Linked DNA regions of Homo sapiens: region 2 is linked to region 1. The links come from fine-mapping of genetic effects on gene expression. A gene starts in region 1. The other region holds a variant in brackets. All regions are shown on one strand. Distances are between the middles of the regions.

Region 1 (8,341 bases):
CTCTACTAAACATACAAAAATTAGCCAGGCGTGGTGATGTGTGCCTATAATCCCAGCTACTTGGGAGGCTGAGGCAGGAGAATCACTTGAACCTGGGAAGTGAAGGTTGCAGTGAGCCGAGAATTGTGCCACTGCACTACAGCCTGGGCGACAGAGCAACTCCGTCTCAAAAAAAAAGAAAAAAGAAAAGACAAACGGCAGCAGGGTTAAGGTGTCAGTGATAATGCTTTGGTTTTTTTGTTGTTGTTGTTTGTTTTTAAGATGGGATAAAATGGGTGATGGAAGAGACTTGAAATAATGAAGAGAGGTAAACAAAGGAATAAGAAAGGGGACCACCTCTTATTCTGGAACTTCAGGGAAGAAAGGGAGAAAGACAGGGCAAATATAGAGTAGTTATCGTGAATGATAACTGGAAGTTGAAGCGTTAGAGCTTCTCAGTTTCGCAGGAGGCAAGGTAACTCTCTTAAGAGATCACAAGAAGGAGATGAATTTGGGGACTTGTGGAGGTGAAAAAGACAGGAAACAGCTGCTGTGGAATGTTCACTAGGAACACACCAGGCTAAGAGGAATGAGAGCTTAGGCAAAGTTCCAGGATGTGAAGTCTTAGTGGGTCAAGCCAGCCTTGTTCTCTGGCTTCATCTGCAATTTCCTCCAGTCCTAGAAGAAAGGAGATTGGCCTAAGGTGAAAGTCAAGGTGTTTAAAGCTAAAGTGCAAGGGAAGACAGCCCTAAAGTAACAGACCAGAAAGTTCATCTCGATTAAGCATATGGGAGTTAAATAGACTGAGGAAATGGAGGAGGCTGAGTCAGTTGGGATGGAAAGAGCAGCTTTACTGGGTGGGGACAGCAGGTTAGGGGAGGTGATGGGCAAAGAGGCCATGGTCATAGGAATAAAAGGAAGAGAGTGCAGATGAGGAACAGTGTACGCAACAGTGGCTGTGAGACTGGGAGAACTAGTAAGAAGAGGAGAAAAAAGCCGGTTCATTTACTCCTAATGGCAGGAGTCCTGCATAGCAAGAAGGTCCTGGATATCTAGGGAGAAAGTGGGAGCCTTTCAAAAAACAAAAAGGGAAATTCAGGGGAACTGAAGTCATTTTTTTTTCCTTCAGTCCAGCCCCAGCCCTACTCTACAGAGAGAGACGCTTAGAAGCCAATAAGAGTTAGTATCATTAGATAAGTAAGAGATCAGAGACAGGTTAGCAAGGGTGGGAAAAAAAGAAAGGCAAGGCTGGGGTCTGACTCAGGAGACCAACAGGCTGGAAGGTGATTTCAGAGGGAGAAGGCCTGTAAGTGTGAGCCCACCCTTCTCAAGAATGCCTGCCAAGAAATTCTTACTTCCCAAGGCTTAGGGGTTAGCTTCTCAATTTCCAATGCACCCCCCTCCCCTCTGCAACTTGATCCAATAAGCCTGTAAGTGCTAAGATGGCACTGGAAGAGAGAAGCAATGAATGGGTGGGAAACTTTAAAAAGAACCTTCCCAGTCCTAGTGCTCCACCCTGGCCTCAAAGTCCTGAAGCCTGATCTGAAAGAGCTGGTGACAGATTTATCATTTATTTGGGGCAGGACCTAGAGAAAGTGGAGAGATCAGTGAAACACTAGCTCTGGGCGTCAATTCTTGTCACCACCTTCCTCTGCACAAATCTGCTCTACTCCTCAATGCTAGAACTTACAGCCATAGACGTGAGAGCTCCACCCCCTCAGTCTGAGCCATCCACTTGTCCTTTTGTTAAGTACAGGAGAGCTGTCATATACATGTTCTCAGCAAACATCATAAAGAAGGTCCAGTCCCATTCCTGTCCCAAAGGCTGTTATCAGCTAAGGTCCCCACCCTATCACAGGACTTTAATTCATGCTGCACACCAGTTCAACAGTGTCAGGCCCCCAGCTACATGCGGGGACCCTGGCATGCAGGCTCCCTGGGATCACACCCTATTCCAGCATCTTGGTAAGCAAGACTATGCTGTCTTTGAGAGAGAACCAGGAAGTCAGTGTGGGTGCTACATATGGCACATCCTCGGCATCTGTGATATGGAAGTTGCCTCCACTTCCTGATTCTGGTTATCACCATCAGATACGTCAGGCCAATCCTGAGATGACTCTGCCTGATCCACCCCTTCAGCTGAATGCTCTGGTCTGGGTAGAGAAACACATGCTATAGGAGGCTGTGGGGGAAATGGGACAGGGAAAGAGGACTGGGGAAGATTTTCAGGAAGATTGTAGGACCAATGGCCCCAGGAAGGAACAGAAACAACGAGAAAGGAGTAGAAGATTGGCATTGGCTAAAAAGAGTCGGCAACTGAAGGGGTTATGAGAGATGAGGTCACCCATGATATCCCTGCCTCCCTGCAACCCTCAGGGTGAGGGCTTCTCTCCAGAGCCTGGAAAAGAGGAAGAAGCACCTTACCAGGTATCACTATTGGGTTCCCTCACCTCTGCCCTGCACTCATCCCCTTTTCTCTCACTTCCCGGCTTCCCGTGTTACAATCTATCTGCCCTAGGAGTAGAGCAGCTACTGTCCTGGGGGGTGGCCGCCCACCTGCAGCTGCTATCCTCAGGCAGGGACACTAGTGCCAGGGAAGAGGCAGCCGTGCGGGGCTGGGGCTTGCCACCACCACAGAGCTGACGGAGCTGACGTCGATATTTGTCCCCAGTGAGCAAGTAGAGCACAGGATCCAGGCAGCTGTTGGCACTGGCCAGGGGCCGAGTCACTTTATAGACCACGTTGACAATGTTCAGTACTCGGCAGTCAGCTTCCAACAGCCTGGCCAGGTAGTAAATGGTGCGGGTGATGTGGAAAGGCACGAAGCAGACAGCAAAGACAGTCAGCACCACAGCTATGGTGCGGAGAGAGCGGAGGCGAGAAGACGACTGTGCAGAGCCTGGCAAGGGCTGATACAGGCGACGAGCCATGAGTCCATAGCAAACAAGAGTGACCAGGCAGGGCACGCCAAAGAGCAGCCCCATGACCGCCGAGCTGAAGTGCACATAGTGGTCAAACTCTTCAGGCCGAGTGGTGTCATGGCACAGGACGGTGGTCCCTTTGTTGCTGGTTGTGACAAAGAACAGGTTGGGCACGAGGCAGCCGGCTACGACCAACCAAACTGCCAGGCAGAGAAGGCCTGCGAGGCGAGGGCGGCCCCAGCGTAGTGCCCGAAGTGGGTGGCAGATGCCCAGGTAGCGGTGCACGCTGATGCAGGTGAGGAAAAGGACACTGCAGTAGAGGTTCCAATAGAAAAGAAAGCGGACGAACTTGCAGATCTCAGTGCCAAAGGGCCAGTGGTTGTGGGCTGCATAATAGTAGATGAGGGTGGGCAGCGACAGCACATACAAGGTGTCTGACAATGCCAGGTGGAACATGTAGGTGGCCGTTGCATCCCAGGGTCGGAGGCGGAAGATGAAGAGCCATAGGGTTGGGGCGTTAAGGCCCAAGCCCAGCACAAAGACAACTGCATAGCTCACAGGCAGCAGGATGAACTTGAAATCCTCATCAAACCAACAGTCCAGCTCCACCTCACTGCTGCCAGGACCTGGGCTGAGGCCTAGGGATCTCAACAGGGAGGACTCTGTACTGGCCATGGCCCCCCTGGAGATGGGAAGGGGAGAAGTGAGGGTGGCAGGATTTCCCTGCCCACCCCCATCCCTGAGCTGGAGCAAAAAAAGTAGAGCAGGGAGAGCAGTGGTTGAAGCACTAGGGAGAGCTGACAGAAGCGCATCTGGGTGCACTCAGGCTAGCCTGGCCCCTACCCAAGCTCCCTTGGTCCAGCTTGGGAAGTGGTGGGCAGCAGGCAGTGCTGGGGCTCAGGCAGGCAGCCCGTGTATTTGGGTTGTACTCACTCTGCAGCTCACTCTGTCCCTAAGAGCCTGGCTGGCTGAAGAGGGTGGAGGCCTCCCAGCACTATCCAAAGTGGGAAGATACCCAGACCCAAAGTGTCTTCTGACTCGTCATCACAGCTATATCCCTGGAAGAGGAGTGTCTCTCCCCACAGTGCCTTCGCCTCTCCTAGTGCCCTGGTCACAGTGTCTCCAGATGACATTTACCTATGACACCTTCCCCACTGCCTGCCTACAGCCCAGGAGCCCCATTGCCACCCTTGCCCAAGAACGTTGGCACATCTCCTACCTGGTCCCCTTGAAGCTGAGCTCAGCTGACTCTGTCACCCTTCCCCTTGGCAGCCAGAGGGCATATCCAAGGAGGTGGAGTTGGAGGTGGGGCCTGTCCCTCCTCCCACCTGGGAGATTAAAAGAGTTAGAAAGGCCCTTTACGATGACCTAGTCCAACCCACTCATTGTACAGATTGGGAAACTGGGGCCCAGCGAGATTACTATTTAACAGCTTTGAAATGACTGCAGGAGGGAGAACACGAGGAAACATCCAAGTTTACTGATGAAGAGCCAGGTCCCTGGAGATAGATTACAGGGGGATCATACAAGCCTGTGTAAGTGAGCAGAAACATGGGAAACGAATTTTCACATGGGCAAGTGCAAGACAACACATTGAAAGATTTTAGAAAATCTAAACTACTGATATTTAATATAAATCTCATATGCATATAATTACAAAGAATGCTTATATAGCACTTACTATGTGACAGGCATTTTTCTAAGTGCTTTATACTTATTAATGACCCCATAGGCTCTCTATGAGCTAGATACTATTATTGTCTCTGCTTTGCTGATGAAAAAATGAAGGCACAGAAAGTTTAGGTGTCTTGCTAGTTAGTGGTAGAGTCAAGATTTGAACCAAGACAGGCCTGCCTTTGGATCAGGCTCTAGCATCCATAACTTAATTGCTATGCTTAAGTTGCCTCTCTAAGCCACTGGCTATGATCCAGGAAAGAATCAACAAATATTTATGGCAGACAGAGGCAGGCAGATCGCTGGAGCTCAGGAGTTCAAGACAAGCCTGGACAACGTGGCAAAACCCTGTCTCTACAAAAAATTAGTCGGGCGTGGTGGCATGCACCTGATGTCCCAGCTACATGGGGGGCTGAGGCAGGAGGAGTGCTTGAACCTGGGATGTTGAGGCTGCAGTGAGCTGTGATCGCGCCACTGCACTCCAATCTGGGTGACAAAGTGAGACCCTGTCTCAAATATAAATAATTTTTTTAAAACCACGAATATTTACTGAGAGCCTACTTTTGCCTGGTCCAGTTCTAGTTACTGGTAGTTCCTTAGGAGTGGACAAAATAGATAAAAACTCCCACCCTAATGGTGCTTACATACTACTGGGGGATAATAAAATTAATAAGTAAAATATGTAGATTGTGATCATCATTATGGAGAAAAATTAAAGAGGGAAGGAAAAGGGTAATAAAGAGGGAAGGAAAAGGGTAATAGAGAGGGTTGTTGTTTTAAATATTAGGAATGAAACCAGGCACAGTGGCTCACACCTGTAATCCCAGTGCTTTGGGAGTCGGAGATAGGAGGATCACTTGAGCCCAGCAGTTTGAGGTTGCAGTGAACTATGGTCAGACCTCTGCACTCCAGCCTGAATGACAAAGCAAGACCCTGTCTATAAGTAAATAAATAAATATTAAGGGTGACTTTTGAATAAAGGCCAGGTGTTGTGAGAAGGGGAAAAGTAAAAAATGAGGTCAGAGAGTTTGGCAGGGACCAGATCATGAAGGTCCTTGGAGGCCATTGTAAAGGACTCTTTGGTGAACGGGAAGGCACTTAGGGTTTAGAGAAGAGAGGTGTCATCTGACTTACATTTTAGAAGGCTCACTGGCCAGCTCTATATTGAGAATAGACTGCAGGGCTGGAGGTACAGGGGGAAGACCAGTCAAGAGGCTATTGCTGATAGAGATGATGGTAGCTTGGATCACAGTGGTGGAGATGATGAGAAGTGGTCAAATTCTGGATAGACTTTTTTAAGTAGGGACAGCAAGATTTACTGATGTGGGGTATAAGAGAAAGAAGAGTCAAAAATTACTCCAAAATGTCCGGCCTGAGCAACTGGAAGAATAGAGTTACTGTTGACAGAGACAGGAGTGGGTTTAGGGGAAAGATTGGGAGTTCACTTTTCAGCCTGTAAATTTTGAGATGCCTATTATACATGTAAGAGGGGATGGCCAGGAGACAGTTCATGCCTCCTTAAGGATACCAGCCAATACATTTCCCATACAGACTCTACCCCTTTCTATACAGTACCCCTCGTCTCTCTTGATCACTCCCAGAGACTTGGTCTGAATATAGTGGAGAAGGTGCAGAGAGCAAGCCTAGATGTTTGAGAGCCTGGTGTAGGGAATTGCCAGCAGCTCAGGATCTGGGGCTCCTGAAGCCAACTAAGCCTCCGTAAGTATATCTTAGGCACTAGAGGCAAACCCGGTCTGGAGGACTCTGAGGATGAGGTAAGCAGTGCCTTTGGGGAGGGGTGAGCAGGCTGGAGCAGAATCCACTCTGCATGGAGCTGAGAAGCAATGGGGACTCTGAACTTACTTGATCCTCAGGTCCTGAGAATGTCACCCAGCTGGATCCTGGGAGTGAGAGGAGGAGGCGGACTTCTAGAATCTAGAATCTAGATCTCTCGGAAAGCCCAGAAACCTGGATGGGGAAACTGAAGATCCTTGCCCTGTGGCAGAGTAAAGGGTGGAATAAAAGGTAGCAGTGGAGGACACAGTCATAACCTGAGTCCTGGACAGCTGACTACTGTGACATTACATAAGAGGCCCAAGTTTTTGAAGCCAGACGGGCTGGTGTTTAAATCCTTGCTCTTCCACTTATTAGTTATGTGAGCCTGGGCGCCTCTTTGTAACTTCCATTCTTCACCAGTGAAATGGGAATAATAATAATACCAATCTTTTAGGGTTTCCTGAATATTGAATTGGTTAACAGGTGTGGAGCACTTTGTGAACCATAAAATGCTGCAAGTTTAGAAGGTGTTTTTTGTTACTGCTTTGCTCCCAGGAATGAACCTGGCCTCTGCAGAGGTGGACAAGCGTGTTTTGAAGTTTGGTGTACACCCAAGGAGAAGCACTACACTAGAGAAGCCCCAGCCTGAGCCAGCTTCCTGCTCCTACTGCTTCAGGCTGGTTTACCTCTGCTACATTTCTCCTGACTTAGCTCTGCTACGTTTCTGCATGTCCCGACACAGCTGCAGCTGCTGCTGCTGCCACCACTGCCGCCCAGTGGCTATTTCAGGAAAAGACCTCTCCCAACCCTCCCCAACCGGCACACCTGCCTGGCTTTTACTGTCCTCACCCAGGGCCAAGAGGAACGGAATGCAGCAGATCAGCCTCACTCTCTTCTGTGAAACTCTTCTTTACTTTGGTTCCTGTGACTTTGCTTTACTCCGGTTCTCCTCTTCCTCTGGATGTTCCTTCTGGCCCCTTCCCTGGCTCTTTTTTCCCCTACTTCCCCAACATGTGAGCCTTCCCCCAAAGATCCTCTCCTCTCCTCTCTCCTCTCCTCTCCTCTCCTCTCTCTCCCTCTCCACCATCTCTCTCCCCCTACCCCCACCCTCTCTTCCCCTTCTCTCTTGGAACATCCACTCTCATGATTTCAACTATGACTCAGAGGTTATCAAAAATTGTAATGGCCAAGAGACTCCAGCATACAGATCTCTCTCTAATCAAAATGCATCTCTCCTTCTCTCACACTCTTATCACATTTGATTTCTACAGAGATGGCACATACCACAGGCAGCCTAGAATTATACTCATTTGTGTTTTTGGCCATCTCCTCCTGATCCTCCCACCCCCATACCAGAACCAGAGCTCCTTGAGAACATGTACCTCATTTTACCTCTGTCTTTCCCATAGCCTTCCAGGTAAAGTTATTATAACATATGTTCTAGATATTTCCTTTCAAATTATATTCTCTGCTGTCCCCCAAAAAATGCCTTCCAATTCAGAGTTAAGAAAACAAGTACCTTCCACATAGTACATGTTCAATAATAGTTGTTGAGTGAATGAATGACTTAATTATAATTTGTTGAACTGAATGGTTCCCACATCTATAATCTAAGCCCTATATATGTTGTTTGCTATAGGACACACACACTTGGGTATCTCATTGATGTCTGGAATTTAGTATGCAGGAAAAGTTTACTATTTTTTCCCTGACAGAGATAAATAAGATGTACAAATACCATTATTGCTGACACCCTTCCATTGCCCTACTCCTCCAGTTTGTTCCAGTCCTCTCCCTCCTGGCCCTTCACATCTAATATTCGTAATTGTCTTGATGACAGTTTCTTTGCAAGGTTTGCTGTTTCCTTGGGGCTTTAAGAAGGAAAGGGGGAAGAGGCATGATTTCTAATCTCTTTATCTGAGTTAGGAGGAAAGGAACGAAGGAAGGGAGAGAAGGAGGGAAGGAGGGAGGGAGGGGAGAAAGGAGGAATA
Region 2 (8,341 bases), 71 kb before region 1:
TTCCCAGCATTCCCACATACCCCATCACGGCATCTTTCATTAATCCCCTTCCATCACCCCAGCATCAACTCAGCTGCGTTGGGCTGAAAAATTCTACCTCCTTGGTGACTTTCAAATTGGTATGTGAAATAGTAGCCTATTTCAGGTTCCCATTGGCTTTCATCTGAATGCCAAAACTCTTAGCTGATCTCTTTGCCTATAGTTTCTCTTGCTCTCACAGTTATTCCAGATTATCTTCCTGAAACAGACACGATCATGCTACTCTTCTGCTCTCTGCTTACTAACCTTTACTGGCTATTCATTTCCTTCAGCATCAGGCCTAATCTCTCCAGTTTCCTTCCCAGCTTCATCTCCTGTACCACGGCTTCCTTAGGCTGCCTGTGTTTTTGCAGGTAATGATGTTACTCCCAGGCCTTGGACTCTCCCATCTCCTGGACTTTGTTCAGGCTCTTCTTTGTGCATGGAGGACCCTTCCTCTACCAATCCATCTGACAAAAATCCTACCTTTCCTCCAAAATTCAACTTTGAACCTTATCTTTCACAAGAAACCCAGAGCTTCTCCAAGACAGGAATTTTGTTTTCCACACGTATTAATGTGAGTTAATACACATGAGGTACTTAAAATAGTTATTGGCACATAATGAATGCTATCTACTTTTTTTCCTACAGCTTGGAGTAAAGATACATGATCTCTCTGATTCTTAGTTTCTTCATCTGTAAAACGAGATAATAAAATTATCCACCTATGAGGACTGCAAGAACATTAAATGAGATAATATACATTAAGTGCTGAACAGAGTGCTGTTTCACAACAAATGGTCAATACATGGTATCAAGGACCATGCTTGCATTATTTTCATCATTTCCATATTTACTCCTTTCACCCTCCCCTTTCCAGTTCCCAACCCTGTCCCCATGGCTTTTAACATAGAGATTTCATATGAGGTAGGCTCATCAATGTTTACTGAATTATTAAATTACCTGTCACTCCTACAAGTTCTTATATTTATAGTTTATTTGGATCCAACAAGTAATCACAAAGCCACAGAAATTCCTCTTTGACAAACTACTTTTGTTTTTTTTTTGTTTTGTTTTTTTGTTTTTTTTTTTTAAATTTCTGAAGGCATTGAGCCAACTGACTAGATTAGGCAAGCATTGCCAACATTCAGATTTAGGTCATTGCCCCGAAACATGAAACATAATGTTTTCACCCATAAGAATTATAGGTTTTCACCTTACACTGGAAATAACTCGTTGCCTATATCCTTACACACACATGCACACCTTATAACTTCAGATAGCCTTTCCTTGTTTGGAATACGGTTTCTCTTCCTATTAACTTTCACCTGCAACTTGGAGAATTGTGAAATTGAACTTCTTCCTTTACTATAATTCAATGTAATGAACATTTATCATAAGCTATCTCTCTGTGTTTGGCACTGTGCTAAAGGCCAAACTTACTGTCTGATAGGGAGAGAGACAGACATATGAGGTACTAATTACACCATCAAACAAAATGAACCAGAACCAGAAAGAAGCACGAGTAATGTCTTGGGAGTGTGCAGAAGAGGGAGTCCTCAATTCTGACCGGGAGATGAGCAAAGATATCACAAGGAAGTGTCATTTGAGCTAAACCATAAAGCCTGAGAGAATTTTGATAAGCAGAAAGTTGGAAAGAGAGTAATAAAAATAAGGGAACAGTATCATCAAAGGCACAGAAATGTGAATTACATGGTGAGTTGAGGGAATGGGAAGTAGACAAAGGTGGTCGGGCCCGTTTCCCATACTTTAGCCATTTGTGTCCCATCTTCTGGCTCTTTCCACAGCTGTGTACCACCTATGCTATTATTACTTAACATACTTTTCCTTCAAATTAAGTCATCTCTGTAGCCTAAATTAATGTATTTTAACAGGAAATTTTATATCGCTACCATGAATTTGCTTTTATTCTCTATGCATTAAAATAACTTTTTATCCATACACCACCTTGGATCATCTAATGTCCCTACAGGGCATGGGAACACTAGGCTACGAAACACTTTGAGAAATACTAGGCTGCAGCATAAGGAATGTGAGTACGGCTACTGAGAGATGAGGCTAGGAAGACACGTGGGGCTAGGCCAGTGAGGGCCTTGAATACCAAGCCAATGTGTTCAGACTTTATTCTGTCAGCAGTTGGAAAATATTGATGGTTTTGGAGGAAGCAAACAACATTATGTGATTGTGCTTTTTAAAAATTTCTGGCAGAGGTGTGGGAAATGGATTGGAGGGGAAGAAACCCATAGCTGAAGGGCAGACAAAAGGCTGCAGTCCAGACTAGAAAAAAATCAAGTCCTGGACCATAGCAGTAGCAATGGGGACAGAGGCAGGAAGACGGATAGGAGAAGTTTTTTGTTTGTTTGTTTGTTTGTTTGTTTGTTTGTTTGGAAAGGGAAAGAAGTCAAAGATGGCCTAAAAATATTGAACCTATGACATTTATCTTGAGGCCTGAAAGATGAATAGGAACTAGCCAGACACAGAGCTGAAGAGAGAGTTTTCCAGGCAAAGGGGACCGCAGGCAGAGAAGCCCTGAAGCTAGAGAGCACTTGAAGGAGCTGAAAAAAATAGCATGGTGGAATGCAAAGAACAAGGTGGTGGCCAGAGACTAGATCACCAAGATCTCCTAACCCTTCTAAGCCAGGGTTAGGAGACTGGACTTGATCCTAAGGGCCACAGGAAACCATATTTATTGTTGAATTGTTAAATTACCATATACTCCCACAGGTTCTTATATTTATAGTTAACTTAGATACAGTAAGTAATCATAAAGCCACAGATATGCCTCTTTGATAAACCAGCCATGTCCTTGGCTACATGCTATAGATTGATAGAGACAGACTTGCATTTAATGCACTGGCTGCATCATGGCTCAAATGGAAGCAGGCAGCCTATTTAGAAGACACTGGTAGTCATCCAGGTGAGAGATAATGGTGGCTTTGACCAAGTGGTAGCATGGAGGTGGGAAATAGAATAATTTGAAAGATATCTGGAAGGCAGAACTGGCAAGAATTGGTAAATGACTAAAGGGAAGTAACAGCTAGAGCTTAGTGGTTAAGGGTACAGTCTCTGGGGTAAGACAATCTTGGTTTTCAGCCCTGGCCACTCACCTGCTAGCTGTCTAATCTTGGAACAATGTAATCACTCTGAACCTCAGGTCCTCATCCACAAAATGATAATGATTACTGTTCTCATGGGGTCTTTATGAAGATTAAATAAACTATGCCATGTGAAACAGTTTTACATGATAAGTGTACAATAGATATTGGCTATTAATCTATGGGCTAAGTGAGCAAGTGAGAGGAATCAGAGATGATTTGAAGAAAGGACCCACTTAGGTCATATTGGTACCATTTTTAACTTAAGCTAGTAATCATTAGCAATTTGAGGCTGTACAGGTTTAACTTTTTTTAAAGTCAGGATCAGGGATAAAGAGTGACATTATGTAATGATAAATGGGCTGATTCACCAAGAAAACAACTATCCTAAATGTGCATGCATCAAATGATAGAACTGCAAAATATATGATGCAAAAACTGATGGTGCTGAAAAGAAAAATAGACAAATTAGCAATTATATTTGGAGACCTCCTTGACAACTACAATCAATCAAAACTCACCTAACATGAAATAAATAACCCATCACTATAATCTTAATTTTAGAAGGTTAGAAACCTTCCAAAAAGAGATTTTCAGACCCAGATGGTTTCAACAGCAAATTCTACAAACATTTTACAGAAAAAATATCACGAATTCTATGCAATCTCTGCAAGAAAGCTTAAGAGAAAGGAACATTTCCCAACTCATTTACGAGGCCACATCCTGATACCAAAATCAGACAAAGATAGTACAAAAAAGGAAAAGAAAACTACAGACTAAGATCCCTCATATATATAAATGAAAAAAGCAACAAAATATTAACAAATTGAATCCAGCAATACATTACAAAGAGTAATGCACCATGACCAAGTGGCCTTTATCCAGGAAGGCAAGTGTAAATATTTGAAAATAAATCAATGTAAACTACCATACTAACCATCTAAGCATGAAAAAACCCCATGTAATCATATCAATTGACAAACTTCAACATGTAATCATGATAAAATCTCTCAGCAAACTAGGAATAGAAGGGAACTTCCTCAACCTGATAAAGGGCATCTACAAAAAAAAAAAAAAAAAAACCCTACAGTTAACATCACACTTGATCATGAAAGATGAAATGCTTTCTCCCTAAGATTAGAAACAAAGCAAGGATGTCCACTCTCACCACTTGTATTCAACGGTATGCTAAAAGCCCTAGCAAATGCAATATGGCAAAAAGAAAAAAAGAAATAAATGCATACAGATCGGAAAAAAAGAGAAATAAAACTGTCCTTACTTGTAGATGACATGATAGTATGTATGGAAAATCCCAAGGACTCTACTTTAAATAAAACAAAAACCTCCAAGCACTAACAAATGAGATTAGCCAGTCACAGGATACAAGATCATGCATAAAAATTAATCACATTTCTATATACTAGCAGAGAAGAATTGAAAATAGAAATTTTAAAAAAAATACCATTTAAATACCTTCAAAAATAAAATGTTTGGGAATAAATCTAGTAAACCATACAGGATTCATAGGCTAAAAACTGTAAAATGCTGATGAATAAAATAAAAGATCTAAATAATTAGAGACATACCATGTTCACAGATTGGAAGATTCAACACAGTAAAGATGCCAATTCTCCCCAGATTGATCTATAAGTATAATGCAATTCAAGTAAAAATCACAGTCAGGCTATATTAGGTAATAGTTTCGCATAAATATTAAATTTCCCAAATTTGGTAATAGCATTGTGGGTGCTATAAGGGAAGAGAATATCGTTTTTCTTGCAAAATACACGCTAAAAACTATTTAGAAGCAAAAGGTTGTAATCTCTGTGATGTATTCTCAAATACAAACATATATGTATATACTTACATTTTTACATTTAAAGATAAATCAAACGTAAAATGTTGACAATGGGTAGATGTAGATGAAGATTAAACAAGACTTTATTAAAATAATCTTGTTTTTTCAAAATAAAAAGTTTAATTAAAAAACCTCCATCAAGAGTTTTTGTAGCAATAAACAAGCTGATTCAAAAATTTATATAGAAAAACAAAGAAACTACAAATAATTAAAACAATTTTGAGAACGAATAAAGTTAAAGGAATTATACCATCTGATTTTGAGACTTAG[T/C]ATAAGACTAGAGCAATCAAGACAGTGATGTATTTGTGAAGGAATAGATATATTGATCCACAGAACAGAAAAGAGTCAAGAAATAAACACATGAATATGGTCAATTGATTTTTGACAAAGATGAAAAAGCAATTCCATGGAGGATGAATAAGTCTTTTCAAGGAACGGTGTAGGAAAATTTGATGTCCATATGTGGCAAAATGAATCTTGACCCAAACTTCAGGCTCTATAAAAATTAACTCAAGTATGACATCAACAAGATGGTGAATGGGAAGTCCATCACATCTCTCCAGAGCAACAAGAATCTGGCAGCCATCCATGGACCAAAGTACCTTTGTGGGAATTTTGGACCCAGGTAGGATGTTGCAAAACTCTAGTAGAGTCCAACACCAAGGAAGGCTGTTTTGAGAGGGCAGGCCCACACCCAGGCTTGTTGACTGTGGTGAAGGTTACAGACCTGGAAATAGCCTCATCCCCCTGTAAACTCAGCTACAATGCCATTTGGTCATGATTCTGCCACCAAAATCATCTTCCAAGGCATCCAGGAGGAGTCACAACCATCTGTGCCTCAAGTTACAGGACTGCCAATCTTGGTCCCAGCAGTATACCCTGAAGCAGCCTTATAACTCAGCTCTGGTCACACTCTGCTGTGGTATGGGAGCAATTATGCCTTCCCAGGGGCTTGCTGGGAGTCATGCCTGTCTGTGCCATAGGAAGCAAGCTTGCTAACCTTGGTATCACAGCAGATCCTGAAACAGCCCTGTAACTTGGGTCCAGCTCCATTCAACTGTACAGGGCAGTCCTGTCCACCCAGGAACCTGGCAGGAGGCACACCTGTCCATGCCCATGGAGGCAGGCCCGCAGGCCTCAGTCTTGGCTATAGACCTTGAGGCAGTTCTATGACTTGGTTCTAGCCCTTCTCAGCCACAGTCCCGGGCCTGTCCTGCCTGCCCAGGGACCCACCCAGTGACCTAGCAGAAGCCCCCCCATAAACCTGCTGAAATCACTCTATAAAGACTGATTTGCTCCTTCAAATGCACAGAAACCAGTGAAAGGCTATACAAATAACAAATAATCCAGCAAACATGACATCATGGAAGAAAACTAGTATAATTCCAGTAACAGCCCAAATAAATGGAGATCTATTAAAGGCTTGAAGAAGAATTCAAGATAATCATCCTGAAGTGCAGTGAGTTGTAAGAGAACACAGACAACTGAACAAAATCAGAAAAACAACACATAAATGAGATGAGAAGTTTAATAAAGAAATAAAAACCACAAAAAGGACCCAAACAGAAATCCTGGAGCTGATGTATACAATGACAGAACTGAAAACTAAAAGAAAGAGTTTCAATAGCAGACTTGATCATGCAGAAGAAAGAAATGGGTAACACAAAGATAGGTAATTTGAAATTAGCCAATTAGAGAAACAAAAAAAGAAAAAAAATGAAAATGAGTGAAGAAAGCATAAGGAACCTATGGGACACAATAAGCAAATGAATCTACTAATTATGGGTGTCCCATAATTTAGGAGAAGAAAAAGAGAGAGAAAGAAACAGAAAGATTATTTCAAGAAATAATGGTTGGAAACTTCACAAATCCTAGGAAAGAAATGGACATCAAGATTCATGAAGCTCAGAGGATCCCAAGCAAGATCAACTCAAAGAAGAATATCCTGAAGCACATTATAATCAAATTGTCAAAAGTCAAAGACAACAGAGAATATTGAAAGCATTAAGAGAAAAGAGTCTCACCACATACAAGGGAACCTCATCAGCAAACTTCTCAGCAGAAATCTTGCAGGCCAGGAGGGAGTGGGATGATACATTCAAAGTGCTAAAAGATGAAAAAACTGCCAATGAAGAATACTATAACCAGCAAAGTGGTCATTCATAAATGAAGGAACAATAAAGACATTCTCAAAGCCAGGCATGGTGGCTCATGTCTGTAATCCCAGCATGTTGGGAGGCTGAGGTGGGAGGATTGCTTGAGGCCAGTTTGAGACCAGCTGGGGCAACATAGTGAGACTCTGTCTCTACAAAAATAAAAATAATAAAATTACCCAGGCATGGTGATGTCCAGCTACTTGGACTTCCAGCTACTTGGGAAGCTAAGGCAAGAAGATCGCTTGAGCCCAGGAGTTCAAACTTCAGTGAGCTATGAGCATGCCACTGCACTTCAGCATAGGTGACAAAATGAGACCCCATCTCTAACAACAAGAAAAAAAGACATTTCCAGACAAATAAAAGATAAAGGATTTCATCACGACTAGACCTACCTTACAAGAAATGCTAAAGAAAGGTGTTTAAGTTGAAATGAAAGGATACTAAATAACAACATTAAAACATATAAAAATATGAAACTCACTGGTAAAGGTAAATATATCATCAAATCCAAAATACTCAGAATACTGCAATGGTAGTGTGTAAATCACTTTTAACTTTATATCTTTTTATATCATGTATCCATTAACAAATTATTGTAGCTGTAGTTATTTTTAGTACTTTCGTCACTTATGTTAGAGTTAAAAGTGGAAATCAAAAAGTATCTTGAGGCAAATGAAAATGGAAACACATCATACCAAAACTTATAGAATGCAGCAAAAACAGTTCTAAGGGGAAAGTTTATCATGATAAATACCTACATAAAGAAAAAAGGAATGTCACAAATCAATAACCTAACTTTACATCCCATGAAACTAGAAAAAAAAGAATAAAATAACCCTAAGATAAACAAAAGTAACAAACCCTTAGCTAAACTAACCAAGGAAAAAAGAGACACAATATCAAATAAATAAAATCAGAAATAAAAGAGAAGACATTACACCTGATGACACAGAAATATAAAGGTCATAAAAGACTACCATGAACAATCATATGCCAACAAATTGGATAACCTAGAAGAAATGCATATGTTTCTAGACACATACAACCTACCAAGAATAAATTATGAAGGAAGAAAATCTAAACAGATCAATGACAAATGAAATTTAATCGATAATCAAAAACCTCCTAACAAAGAAAAGCCCAGGACCAGACAGCTTCCTAGGTGGTCAGTAGTTCAAGACCAGCTCGGCCAA

The links.
Region 2: its variant is fine-mapped to the expression of P2RY4 in sun-exposed skin (GTEx, PIP 0.95).

Annotation. Positions count from the first base shown.
Region 1 is chrX:70,256,050-70,264,390 of GRCh38, forward strand. P2RY4 (pyrimidinergic receptor P2Y4) reads right to left here and starts at 4,155. Exons shown (of 1, transcript NM_002565.4): 1 at 2,117-4,155. The coding sequence starts at 3,575. The coding sequence ends at 2,478. RefSeq lists an enhancer at 6,950-7,244.
Region 2 is chrX:70,184,780-70,193,120 of GRCh38, forward strand. All of the region lies in intron 1 of DGAT2L6 (diacylglycerol O-acyltransferase 2 like 6), which reads left to right. Among named protein-coding and RNA genes, the nearest start is that of DGAT2L6, 11 kb to the left of the region's middle. The variant T/C (reference allele first, on the strand shown) is at 5,263.